Linked DNA regions of Homo sapiens. The protein of the gene in region 1 purifies or fractionates together with the protein of each later gene. This does not show direct contact. Each region holds a gene or a part of one and is shown in the gene's direction. Other genes may lie near its edges.

Region 1 (7,250 bases):
TCACTGCAACCTCCACCTCTTGGGTTCAAGTGTTTCTCGTGCCTCAGCCTCTTGAGTAGCTGGGATTACAGGCGTGTGCCACCATGGCCGACTAATTTTTGTATTTTTAGTGGAGACGGGGTTTCACCATGTTGGCCAGGCTGGTCTCAAAATCCTGACCTCAAGTGATCTGCCTGCCTTGGCCTCCCAAAGTGCTGGGATTATAGGCATGAGCCACTGCGCCCAGCCTACAATTTTTTTTTTTTTAAAGATTGGGGTCTTGGGCCAGGCGCCCAAGTGGAGAAACCCCGTCTCTACTAAAAATACAAAATTAGCCGGGCATGGTGGCGCATGCCTGTAATCCCAGGTACTTGAGAGGCTGAGGCAAGAGATTCGCTTGAACCCGGGAGACGGAGGTGGCAGTGAGCCAAGATCGCGCCATTGCGCTCCAGCCTGGGCAACAAGAGCAAAACTCCGTCTCATAAAAAAAAAAAAAAAAGATGGGGGTCTTGCTATGTTACCCAGACTGGACTCGAACTCCTGGGCTTAAGTGATCCTCCTGCCTCAGCCTCCCCAGTATCTGGACTACAGGCTCGTGCCAGTGCACCTGGCTACCATTCTACTTTATAATAATTTTTACTAATGGCCTCTCAAAGTCCTGAGACTTCAGCCATCTGTGTTGCCAGCCATTAGGAGCAGGCACCAGCACACTGTGGCCTGCAGGTGGATTGGATGTGAGGGTCCCTCAGGGGAAGAGGTGGGTCTGTTTTCCAGATTGAGCACATGGGGTGGCCATTCCTGGGGGCCTGGACAGATGGCAGGAACAGATTTTGGGGAGCCGTCACAAGTGTGGGTTTAGACACAGGGTTCAGGTGCCTTTAGGACATCCAGGGGGCCAAGGCCCAGGCCCGTTAGGAGCAGCAGCAGGGGAAACCCTGGGCCTCCACACCCTGGTTGAGGTGGGACAGGCTGCTGACCACTCCCTCGTGTGTCCCCATAGCTCTCAACAGCCTGACGGGCGAGTTCAAAGGGAAGTACTACCCTCTGAAGAGCATGACGGAGAAGGAGCAGCAGCAGCTCATCGATGACCACTTCCTGTTCGACAAGCCCGTGTCCCCGCTGCTGCTGGCCTCAGGCATGGCCCGCGACTGGCCCGACGCCCGTGGCATCTGGTGAGGCCCCTCCCCGCCCCCTGGCTTCCTCTTCCCCCAGCCTCCTCCAGTCCTGCAACGGCCCTCCTCACTCCTCCACCAAAACCAAGGCCATATACGTAATTATGATCTTCTAAATGCCACGGAAAATGATCTTGCCCTCCGCCCCTGCCCATCCTGTGGTCTGTGTGTCAGATTTTGGGATATCTGGACCGGAGAAGTGGTAGTTAAAAACTTAAGACTTGGCGGGGCACGGTGGCTCATGCCTGTAATCCCTGCACTTTGCGAGGCCAAGGCGGGGGGATCACTTGAGGTCAGGAGTTTGAGACCAGCCTGGCCAACACGGTGTCTACTAAAAATGACAAAAATTTAGCTGGGCGTAGTGGCAGGCGCCTGTAGTCCCAGCTACTTGGGAAGATGATGCAGGAGAATCGCTTGAACCCAGGTGGCGGAGGTTGCAGTGAGCCGAGATCGTGCCACTGCACTCCAGCCTGGGCGACAGAGCCAGACTGTCTCAAAAAAAAACAAACAAAAAAGAAAGAACTTAGACTTGGCCGGGCACAGTGGCTCACACCTGTAATCCCAGCACTTTGGGAGGCTGCAGCAGGAGGGTCGCTTGTGCCCAGGAGTTCTAGACCAGCCTGGGCAACATAGGGAGACCACGTCGCTACAAAAATTAAAAAAAAAAAAAGCCAGGCGCGGTGGCTCACGCCTGTAATCCCAGCACTTTGGGAGGCCAAGGTGGGCGGATCACGAGGTCAGGAGATTGACACCATCCTGGCTAACACGGTGAAACCCCGTCTCTACTAAAACTACAAAAAAAAAAAAAAAATTAGCCCGGCGTCGTGGCAGGCGCCTGTAGTCCCAGCTACTTGGGAGGCTGAGGCAGGAGAATGGCCTGAACCCAAGAGGCGGAGCTTGCAGTGAGCTGAGATCGTGCCACTGCACTCCAGCCTGGGCGACAGGAGACTCCGTCTCAAAAAAAAAAAAAAAAAAAAAAAAAAAAAAAAGCCAGGCGTGATGGCGTATACCTGTGGTCCCAGCTACTCGAGAGGCTGAGGATCAGCTGGGCCCAGAGGATTGAGGTTACTGTGAATCATGACCGAGGTACTGCACTCCAGCTACCTGTCTCAAAAATAAGAACTCAGACTTGAACCGTACTCCCTAGGTTCAAATCCCAGCTCTACCATTTACTAACTTTACTAGCTTTGTGACCTTGGGCAACTTATTTTATTTTTCTCTACCCCAGTTTCCTAGCTATAGGATAGGGATCACAATAATTTGTAGTTTCTGGTGTTCTTGTGAGGATTAAATGAGTTAATTTATGTAAAGTATTAAAAGCAGTGCCTGGGCCAGGCGCGGTGGCTCACGCCTGTAATCCCAGCACTTTGGGAGGCCAAGGCGGGCGGATCACGAGGTCAGGAGATCGAGACCATCCTGGCTAACATGGTGAAACCCCGTCTCTACTAAAAATACAAAAAATTAGCTGGGCTTGGTGGCAGGCGCCTGTAGTCCTACTTACTCGTGAGGCTGAGGCAGGAGAATGGCGTGAACCCGGGAGGCGGAGCTTGAAGTGAGCCAAGATCGCATCACTGCACTCCAGCCTGGGCGACAGACCAAGACTCTGTCTCAAAAAAAAAAAAAAAAAAAAAAGCAGTGCCTGGTATACACTAAGTGTTCAGTACATCTTGGTTATTCGTCTTATCTTTATTATAAAGTATTATTGCTAGACTTGTTTTGACTCTTTGAATCCCTGATTCAGATAGTCAAAGATTTAGAGAACCTAGGTTTCAATCGATGAAGGGAGCCTGGGTGCTAAGATATACAGATGGGATGATTCTAAGATTTCAAGATTTTAAATATTTTTAGGTTTTAAGATTCCACTCATTTATTTATTTATTTATTTTGAGATGGACTCTCACTCTGAGGCCCAGGCTGGAGTGCAGTGGGTTGATCTCGACTCACTGAAACCTCCATCTCCCGGGTTCAAACGATCCTCTCACCCTCCGCCTCCTTAGTAGCTAGGACGACAGGCATGTGCCACTGTGCCCAGCTAGTTTTCGTATTTTTGGTAGAGACAGCGTTCTGCCATGTTGCTCAGGCTGGTCTCGAACTCTTCACCTTAAGTGATCCGCCCACCTCAGCCTCCCAAAGTGCTGGGATTACAAGCGTGAGCCACCATGCCTGCCCTCAGGTTTTTTTTTTTTTTTTTTTGAGACAGGGTCTTGCTCTGTTGCCCAGGCTGGAGTGCAGTGGTGGGATCATAGCTCGCTGCAGCCTGGACCTTCCAAGGTCAAGTGATCCTCCCGCCTCAGCCTCCCCAGTGGCTTGGACTACAGGCATGTGTCCCACCATGCCTGCTAATTTTTTAAATTTTGTAGATATGTGGGTCTTGCCATGTTGCCCAGGGTAGTCTTGAACTCCTGGGCTCAAGCAATCCTCCGGCCTTGGCCTCCCAAAGTGCTGGGATTACAGGCATGAGCCACCACACCCGGCCATTTCCGGATCTTAATATTTTATGTTCTTTTTTTTTTTTTTTTTTGAGATGGAGTCTCGCTCTGTTGCCCAGGCTGGAGTGCAGTGGCGCGATCTCGACTCACTGCAAGCTCCACCTCCCGGGTTCTCGCCATTCTCTTGCCTCAGCCTCCTGAGTAGCTGGGACTACAGATGCCCGCCACCATGCCCAGATTTTTTTTTGTATTTTTTAGTAGAGACAGGGTTTCGACGTGTTAGCCAGGATGGTGTCGATCTCCTGACCTTGTGATCCGCCCGCCTCGGCCTCCCAAAGTGCTGGGATTACAGGCGTGAGCCACCGCACCCAGCCTTAATATTTTATGTTCTAAGATCCTGCTTCTGAGATGCTAGGATTGGGAGCTAACACACTACGATGGGAAGATTTTCTGGTCCTGAAACCAGATGTAGGATTACCAAGTGTTATCAGTTCTGATCCCAAGCTTCTGTTTGTCAAACATCCTGAGATCCCAAGGATCTATAATAATACTGTTCAAAGACTTAAGTCCCTAAAAGTCCTTGATCCCAGGATTCAGCGTTTTGCAGATCCTGTGACATTAGAGTCTACAGGTTTAAGCTTCTGCGTTTTGAGGAGGCAGATGCCACCCACCTCCCACCCCTCAGGCCCTCTTCCCCCATCGGTGGGCAGATGTTTTGGGGGAGGGCTGGGAATGGGGTTCCCACGGGGCTGACACCTTGGCCTCTTGCTGCGGCACCTTACTCTAGGCACAATGACAACAAGAGCTTCCTGGTGTGGGTGAACGAGGAGGATCACCTCCGGGTCATCTCCATGGAGAAGGGGGGCAACATGAAGGAGGTTTTCCGCCGCTTCTGCGTAGGGCTGCAGAAGGTGGGTGTCTGCCCTTAGCTGCTGACTTCTGACTCCACCTTGAACGCCCCACCTGCTTTCCGAGGCCCCGCCCCTTCCCCTATACTAAGCCCTGCCCCACCCATTTTCCAGGGCCCTGCCCCCCGGACCTGGCTCCACCCCATGCCAAACCCCGCCCCCCAAAACTAGCCCCACCCGCTTTTCAGGGCCCCGCCCCTGGACCCAGCTCCACCCTATGCCCAAGCCCCGCCCGTAAGGATCCGCCTTCAGGCCGGGAGCGGTGGCTCACGCCTGTAATCCCAGCACTTTGGGAGGCTGAGGAGGGTCAGGAGTTCAAGACCAGCCTGGCCAACATGGTGAAACCCCGTCTCTATACTAAAAAATTAATAAATAAATAAATTATCCAGGCGTAGTGGCGCGCGCCTGTAGTCCCAGCTACTCGGGAGGCTGAGGCAGGAGAATCGCTTGAACCTGGGAGGCAGAGGTTGCAGTGAGACGAGATCACGCCATTGCACTCCAGCCTGGGTGACACAGAGAGACTCTGGAAAAAAAAAAAAAAAAAACCCGCCTTCAAAGCGTTCTTAGTCCCCGCCCCTCAAAATCCTGCCTTGGTCCCCATTGTCTAGCCAGCACCCTCGGAATCTCCTACCTCCCTGTTCCCCTCAGAATCCCACCTCCACCACGTTCCCACGCCCTGTCCCTCCGGACCCTGTCCATGTTGCGGGTGCATTTGGGGGTGCCTGCCGGCGCTGACCCCTGGTCCTCTCTCTGAACCTCAGATTGAGGAGATCTTTAAGAAAGCTGGCCACCCCTTCATGTGGAACCAGCACCTGGGCTACGTGCTCACCTGCCCATCCAACCTGGGCACTGGGCTGCGTGGAGGCGTGCATGTGAAGCTGGCGCACCTGAGCAAGCACCCCAAGTTCGAGGAGATCCTCACCCGCCTGCGTCTGCAGAAGAGGGGTACAGGTACGGCTCCCACATCCTTTGCACCACGACGGAGGGGGAGCGAGGGCCCTTTGCAGGGATGCAAGGAGAGGTGCGACATCCCTGCGAGTTCTGGGGATCCGGCAAGGGCTGACCCTCTGTGAGCTTGCATTTCTTCCTCTGTAAAATGGGTGTCAATATGCCTATGTGATAGGAGTCAATGTGGGATTTTCATGATTATATAATATGCATTGCACATGCCCTTGGACCTCCCTCGGGGCCTCAGTTTCCCCATTTATAAAGCGAGGAGTGGTCAGGATTCGACCCTAGGCCGCCTGGCTCCAGAACCCACTCTCTTACCCACTATACTATGTTTGATAACTGAGTGGCGTGGTACCCCATCTGAAGTCAGAGACTCGTGAGCTCACGAATGAACAGGCATTACCTGTGTGCAGGTAACCTGTTACACAGTAGGCACTCACTACATGCGGCTGTTGCATTTGGCACGGGGGCCACGTCCCAGCCCCTCTGCACCTTCGCTGCCTCTTCACGCCCCTGTCCCTTGCTCCCACAGGTGGCGTGGACACAGCTGCCGTGGGCTCAGTATTTGACGTGTCCAACGCTGATCGGCTGGGCTCGTCCGAAGTAGAACAGGTGCAGCTGGTGGTGGATGGTGTGAAGCTCATGGTGGAAATGGAGAAGAAGTTGGAGAAAGGCCAGTCCATTGACGACATGATCCCCGCCCAGAAGTAGGCGCCTGCCCACCTGCCACCGACTGCTGGAACCCAGCCAGTGGGAGGGCCTGGCCCACCAGAGTCCTGCTCCCTCACTCCTCGCCCCGCCCCCTGTCCCAGAGTCCCACCTGGGGGCTCTCTCCACCCTTCTCAGAGTTCCAGTTTCAACCAGAGTTCCAACCAATGGGCTCCATCCTCTGGATTCTGGCCAATGAAATATCTCCCTGGCAGGGTCCTCTTCTTTTCCCAGAGCTCCACCCCAACCAGGAGCTCTAGTTAATGGAGAGCTCCCAGCACACTCGGAGCTTGTGCTTTGTCTCCACGCAAAGCGATAAATAAAAGCATTGGTGGCCTTAGCTTTGTGCGATAGTTATTGAGGGAGGACGTGCAATTGGCCACTGTGTGGTCTCAGAGTGGTTTGTCCTGTCTAGGCATGTACTAAACATGTCTTATCCCGGGTCTAAAATGAGGCAAAGTTAGGTCACAGAATCTAGTCCAAAAATTAGAAGGCTCTATGGGGAATCTGAGACCCAGAGAGACACTGAGCCCAGTGTCACTCACCCAAAGCATGGGCCCTTTCCAACTATGGCTTTGAATTAGTCATGCTCAGATCTCAAACACGAGGTCCACGCTGGGGAGGAATGCAGCCAAACGAAATGTCTGAAACTTGAATTTAGCCCAACGGTCTCCAGTTTTGAGACCTCCCATGCAGCTCGTCACATCTACCTATATTCTGCTTCTCAGTGGCCTCCTTCTGTCCCGTCTGACTTCATCCCTCTGTAGCTGCTGCCAGTCCCTTACTTTCTCAAGAACCTGCCATGGCTCCCCATTTCTCCTAGAAAGCTTTTCTGTTATTTTGCAACTCAAGGCCACACTGAAATGCATACCATTTGCTGGAGGCTCACCTTTCCAGTTCTTTCCCCATTACTCCTCTGATTCTTTCACACCTGACACCCTCCAATTCCCACCTCAATGTCTTTGACCAAGCTGTTTCCCTCTCCAATCTGTGAGTCTGAGCATCCCCATGAAGTCTTTAGGGATAGGCCTTTTGGAGAACTCAGTCCCAGGAAGGAACAGGAAAGAGGTGTGGTAGAGCAATTGGTGGAGGGAGAAGAGTTA
Region 2 (5,102 bases), on another chromosome or scaffold:
TGGACAGCACTGATCTGCTGCGTGTAGGGATCTGCTTTATCTGAAAACTTGATGCAGAATCACGGCTAGTTCAAAGAAACTTGCAGAACATTTCATGAAAATTAAATTTCTCTATGGTGAAAACTAGGGGTCAAGTAGCAGATGAATACTGGCTGTGAGATGAATGCATAACCAGAACCTCCCATTCCCCTTTTTCCAGCGTCTCTCCTATCTCCCAGCAGTGCTTTATCACTTTCTCCTCTCAAGTTGATAAAGAGAAAGGAAGAAAGAAACAGAGAAGTCGGTTTATGTTCATAATTAACATCCATGAACTCTGCATAATTTTTTCCCCTCTCTTTACAGGTCCTCGAGGCCACACGGGTTAATCGAAGAAAGAGCGCACTGGCTTTGCGCTGGGAAGCAGGGATCTATGCCAACCAGGAGGAAGAAGACAACGAATAAACTTCCTTCAACCCAGGAAGCGTCTTTGGTGCTTGGGAGACCAAGAAACCAAGAAATTAACAACTGAAAGCATTTTAATGGACTATTTATTAAAGTGCAAACAAACTCAGCAATCCTTATGTAGACCAGAAGCTGCAATATACAATGATGAAAATGAAACGAAAAGGAAGTCCCCCCATCAGACTCTGGACACCCAGGAATCAAAAGAGAAAGGACTTTTTTGGTGACTCAATCCCAGTGTCTGGTTTGGGGCCAATCTACAATGGATCCAAAAGGACAAAACATGTTACAAGCAAATCAACATAGTTGCTGCAGGCGGAACTGAGACCAGCCTCTCTGGGCGATGAAGGACAATGGTGGTAGGGCCACTTAGAGAGCAGTAGGGCCCAGGCTGGTGCAGCCTACATGGCACAGGATATTTCCCTGCACCAGTTTCCCACCTGTCACTTGCAGCATCAGAGGGTGTTGCATTAACTCCATTTTCTCCAGCAGCCATAAAATGAATGGCGTTTCTCTCCATATTTGCCCAGAAGAGGCAGTTATGATTCCACTTCTCCTACATTTAATTATTTTTAATTGAGAACAACTCATGATCACAATTCATAAAATCCATATTTTAAGACAATAGTTCTTCATGTCACAAACACAATCTATTCTACATGAGGAGGCTGAGAAAGGGGAAGAGAAAAACAAACCAAATGGATGATGTTAGCTTTAGGATCGTGTCTGCTTATAATATTCACTGATCTGCAGTTTATGAGAACACATTTTCACAGTTATGTTTCTTCATAGGAAAACTATATTTAGTGGGCAACAACTATTTTTATGATGGGATGGGGGAGTATATACACGTATAGAATCTGTACGCGTTGAACAACTTGGTTCAAGATGGTGGGGGCATTTTTAGAGCGGCAATAATTGAAAAAAAAGGCGAACTCTGCCTTGGAGAGGTAGATGATAAGAAATAAAAAGGTGTTTATAACTATTTTGTATTATAAAGTGGGCCTTAGAGATAGGAAGAAGAATGATGGATTCCTTTTGGATCAATCAGAAAGGAAACACGAAAGAAAAGTCAGGAAGGTAGAGAGAGAAAAAGGGAGGGAAGGAGAAAGAATGGGAATAAAATAAGGAGGTAAGAGATACTATTTTTGCTGAGCAACCAGTGTGTTTCAGGATGATACAAAGAAAAATATAGAATAGAAATAAGTGCAGGCTTGGAATCAGCTACAAATCCTAAAGATGGGGTGTGTGTGGATGTGTGTGTGTGTGTGTGTACACCATTGTGTGTTTGTAAAATGTGTATGTTCATGAGTAAGGGTGTGTGTGTGTGTGTATTAAAATTCCAGAGTGACCGTGGCACTTGGGTGTACAGGTAATTCCTCCAGAGCTGTTTGCTGGCTTCAGGAGTGGAGTGAGAATTTCTTTTTTATGAAAAGGGATATAAAGGCACCGAGCTGATGCAGTATTTGTAATATTAAGTTGACCTAACAAGGTATTTGCATGAGTCACAATTACAAAGTTTTGAGCGGTTTTGTAATTTGACATTTAGGAGAGTCTCCTATTTATTCTCATACTTTACATTCATGCTTAGTATACTATAGAGGATGCCAGCTTTAATCTTTCTGTCATTTAAAGCAATATGATAAGGGTATTCAATAATTGGGTGCCCTAAATTTCTGGATGAGAAAATTTTCAATTCTGGCCATGAGAAAGAAAAAAAAATAAACAGCCTTCTTTTTTTTTCCTTTGTTTTAAAACTGTGGTTTTTTAAAAAAGCAATAATTAACTCAGACCTCACTAAAAATCATTTTTGTTTTTATATTGTTATGTCATAAGCTCTATTATGTTATTCTAACAAGTAGCAATTTCACAAAATTTGTATGTAGATGTTAACGCACATTTCCTTTGCTTCTTTTATTAGACTAGTGTTGACTTTGGGGGGGGACATTTATTCACAAATGAGAAGTAGGCACAAAGTAAAAAATGGAACCATCTACTAACAAGGATCCTTTAAAACTGCCAAGGGAGCTCTAACTTGAAGCCACATCCTACAGATGGCAGCCCAAATAGCACATGGGCAATTGGCACCATCTTTATATGGTTGAGTCTCCTGAATATTTTGAATGAATTCTCAACAAAATGTGCTAGCCACTGGGGACGCAAAACAAGTAAGATCCCTGTTGCAAGAAATTCATTTTATAGTGAGGGAGGTTGGCATGGAGACTAAAATTCTCAGGAAAATGAGATCCGTGTTAGATTAGAAGTCCTGATGTGAAATGGGAGGACTCAGGAAGGAGGATCGTCTTTACCTGAGGATTTCTAGCCAGAGGTCCCAGATGCCTGGGCTGAGAACCCAGCGATAAGGGGGCGTTCCCAAAGCAGACACAGGGATAAGAACAGAGGAGGCAGCAGCATTGCACAGCCCCAGGCACAGTGGCAGTTAGGATGGCTGGAGAGTAGGATAGTTCTATGGGTTGCCCAAAAAATGTGATGCGCTTCATGTTTTCTCTGACTCATGGATCTGGTAGAGACCATAGACATGATATAGACTAACTTCCCCATTTTTCACAAGAGGAAACCATCCTTATGACTTACCTTAAAGTTTTTTGTTCTGTTTTGAAGGAAACCATGTGCTTCATGAAACCTACAGTTGACAAGAGAATGTACAGCTAAGAGAAAAGCTTAAGAGGCCACACTATTCGCGGAATGGCTTTAGAGGCAGATGAAGTGGTCTTTGACCACAGTTGATTGAACCAGAGCACTTATTGCTTAAAGAATAACAGAGTTCTAGAGCTGGGGGTTCTTGGGCCATGCTCCGTGTGTGGATAAGGAAAGAAATACTGTTTCTGGGACTCTCCCACAGTCACAAAGCTGTTTTCACTGTGGCCCCTACATCTCTTAACTTTTGCTATTACTCCTATGCTGCCTTCCGGATTACTGCTGTCTATCTTCTTGCTCCACTCACTGAAGATCCTATTATAATCCCATGAAAATGTAAATTACAGTTTACTTGGGAGAGCCAGATTTTCTCTGTGCTCTTGAGTTTTTTATTCATTCAAGAAACCTTGGGCCACCGCTTTGTACATAGCACCGTGCTAGGCTCTGGGATCCCAAATGGACCCTTTTAACTTTCTGAAGATGGGACCGTCCCCTGGAGGAAAGTCATTCCTGCCTAATCCATCGAGAGAAAGAGGCTTACGAAAAACTTTGCCTCTGATGCTCAGCCCCACCCCCAAATAGCACACAAGCTTGTTAACCCCACCTCTTACAAAATGTTTAGATTCTGTAGGTGTTAAAAGCCTTTCTGGAAGTATTGCATTCTGCCGTGTTTATAGGTGTTCACTTTCCTCCAGAGCTGATTAACTACTGACATGACTTGGCTTTCTCATCCAGAAATTATGGAAACAGGGTCTGTCAGTGGCAGGAGGCCGTGCTGTGTTTTACTTGGATGACACAATGCAGTTTACTTGCCTCTTCATACCCATGCATGCTGCTCACCCTAGACAATGACATATAAGCCGTATATAGATCAATGTCCACATATATATACACACACACATATATATATATAAAGTGTAACAAGGAACACTAAAACAGTGTTGATTCTTGTCTCTGAAGACAAATAATTAAACCTTTTTTTTCCCAACTAAAGAATGGATTTAATTAAACTATGTATTGAAAAAAAAGTAGCCTAAGTGTTAGAGATGGTGAATATATTCCATTTTAGTTAAAGAACAAATTTCCTGAATTTTAAGCATTCAGTGAGCTGCCAATTTTGATTTTGTGTTGCTCTTTACCCAAATTATTTTTTCTTTGTTTTTCTTTTTTTGGGGGAGGAGGGGAAAAAAGCAGCAATACTGTGTTTGGAAATTATACTCTGTATCTGGTTTTCCTGTGTATGTTAACCACTTAAATGTTATTATCCTGCTTTGGTTTTAGAGTGATTGTGAGGCATTCAATGCAAGTATACAGTTATTTTCTCATTAAAATCCAATGTGTGTTGAGTTTTTATAAATAATGGCTGCTTGTTTGACCGTGAGGGAGGTTGGAAGACTGGGCCAAACAGTGGCACGCCAGCGTCCTACTTGGCCGCTACTGTGTGACAGCTTCTGGTTCCTCATGTTTGCAACAAAGGAATCAATCCGAGCTGAGGGGGCACTGCTGCACCAGGCTGTTCCCACAGCCCCCTTTTCAATGCTGTCCCCAGCCACCCTGGCTAGATGCCAGAAGCTGCAAGTGCCTCTTAAGGACATAGACTCGAAGCCACAGCAAGAGCTGGACAAACAGCAGGACGAACGGTAAACTCCAGCCTTGCCTGTAGCTTTTGGCTCTAACCTTTAGAATACATTATGAGCACCGGCCGGGCGCGGTCGCTCACGCCTGTAATCCCAGCACTTTGGGAGGCCGAGACGGGCGGATCACGAGGTCAGGAGATCGAGACCATCTTGGCTAACACGGTGAAACCCCGTCTCTACTAAAAATACAAAAAATTAGCCGGGTGCGGTGGCGGGCTCCTGTAGTCCCAGCTGCTCGAGAGGCTGAGGCAGGAGAATGGCGTGAACCCGGGAGGCGGAGCTTGCAGTGAGCCGAGATCGCACCACTGCACTCCAGCCTGGGGGACAGAGCCAGACTCCGTCTCAAAAAAAAAAAAAAAAAAAAAA

The links.
Region 2: the proteins of CKM (region 1) and PALM2AKAP2 purify together in Homo sapiens (affinity purification with mass spectrometry; 3 studies listed by BioGRID and IntAct, with this or other methods). This does not show direct contact.

What each region holds. Positions count from the first base shown.
Region 1 is NC_000019.10:45,305,650-45,312,899, reverse strand, and holds the end of CKM (creatine kinase M-type), read left to right. Parts: intron 1-979; coding exon 980-1,151; intron 1,152-4,367; coding exon 4,368-4,491; intron 4,492-5,249; coding exon 5,250-5,439; intron 5,440-5,971; coding exon 5,972-6,150; 3' UTR 6,151-6,487; downstream 6,488-7,250. UniProt on the Homo sapiens protein: Reversibly catalyzes the transfer of phosphate between ATP and various phosphogens (e.g. creatine phosphate).
Region 2 is NC_000009.12:110,168,057-110,173,158, forward strand, and holds the end of PALM2AKAP2 (PALM2-AKAP2 protein isoform 3 (PALM2-AKAP2)), read left to right. Parts: intron 1-342; coding exon 343-441; 3' UTR 442-4,456; downstream 4,457-5,102. UniProt on the Homo sapiens protein: Binds to regulatory subunit (RII) of protein kinase A. May be involved in establishing polarity in signaling systems or in integrating PKA-RII isoforms with downstream effectors to capture, amplify and focus diffuse, trans-cellular signals carried by cAMP.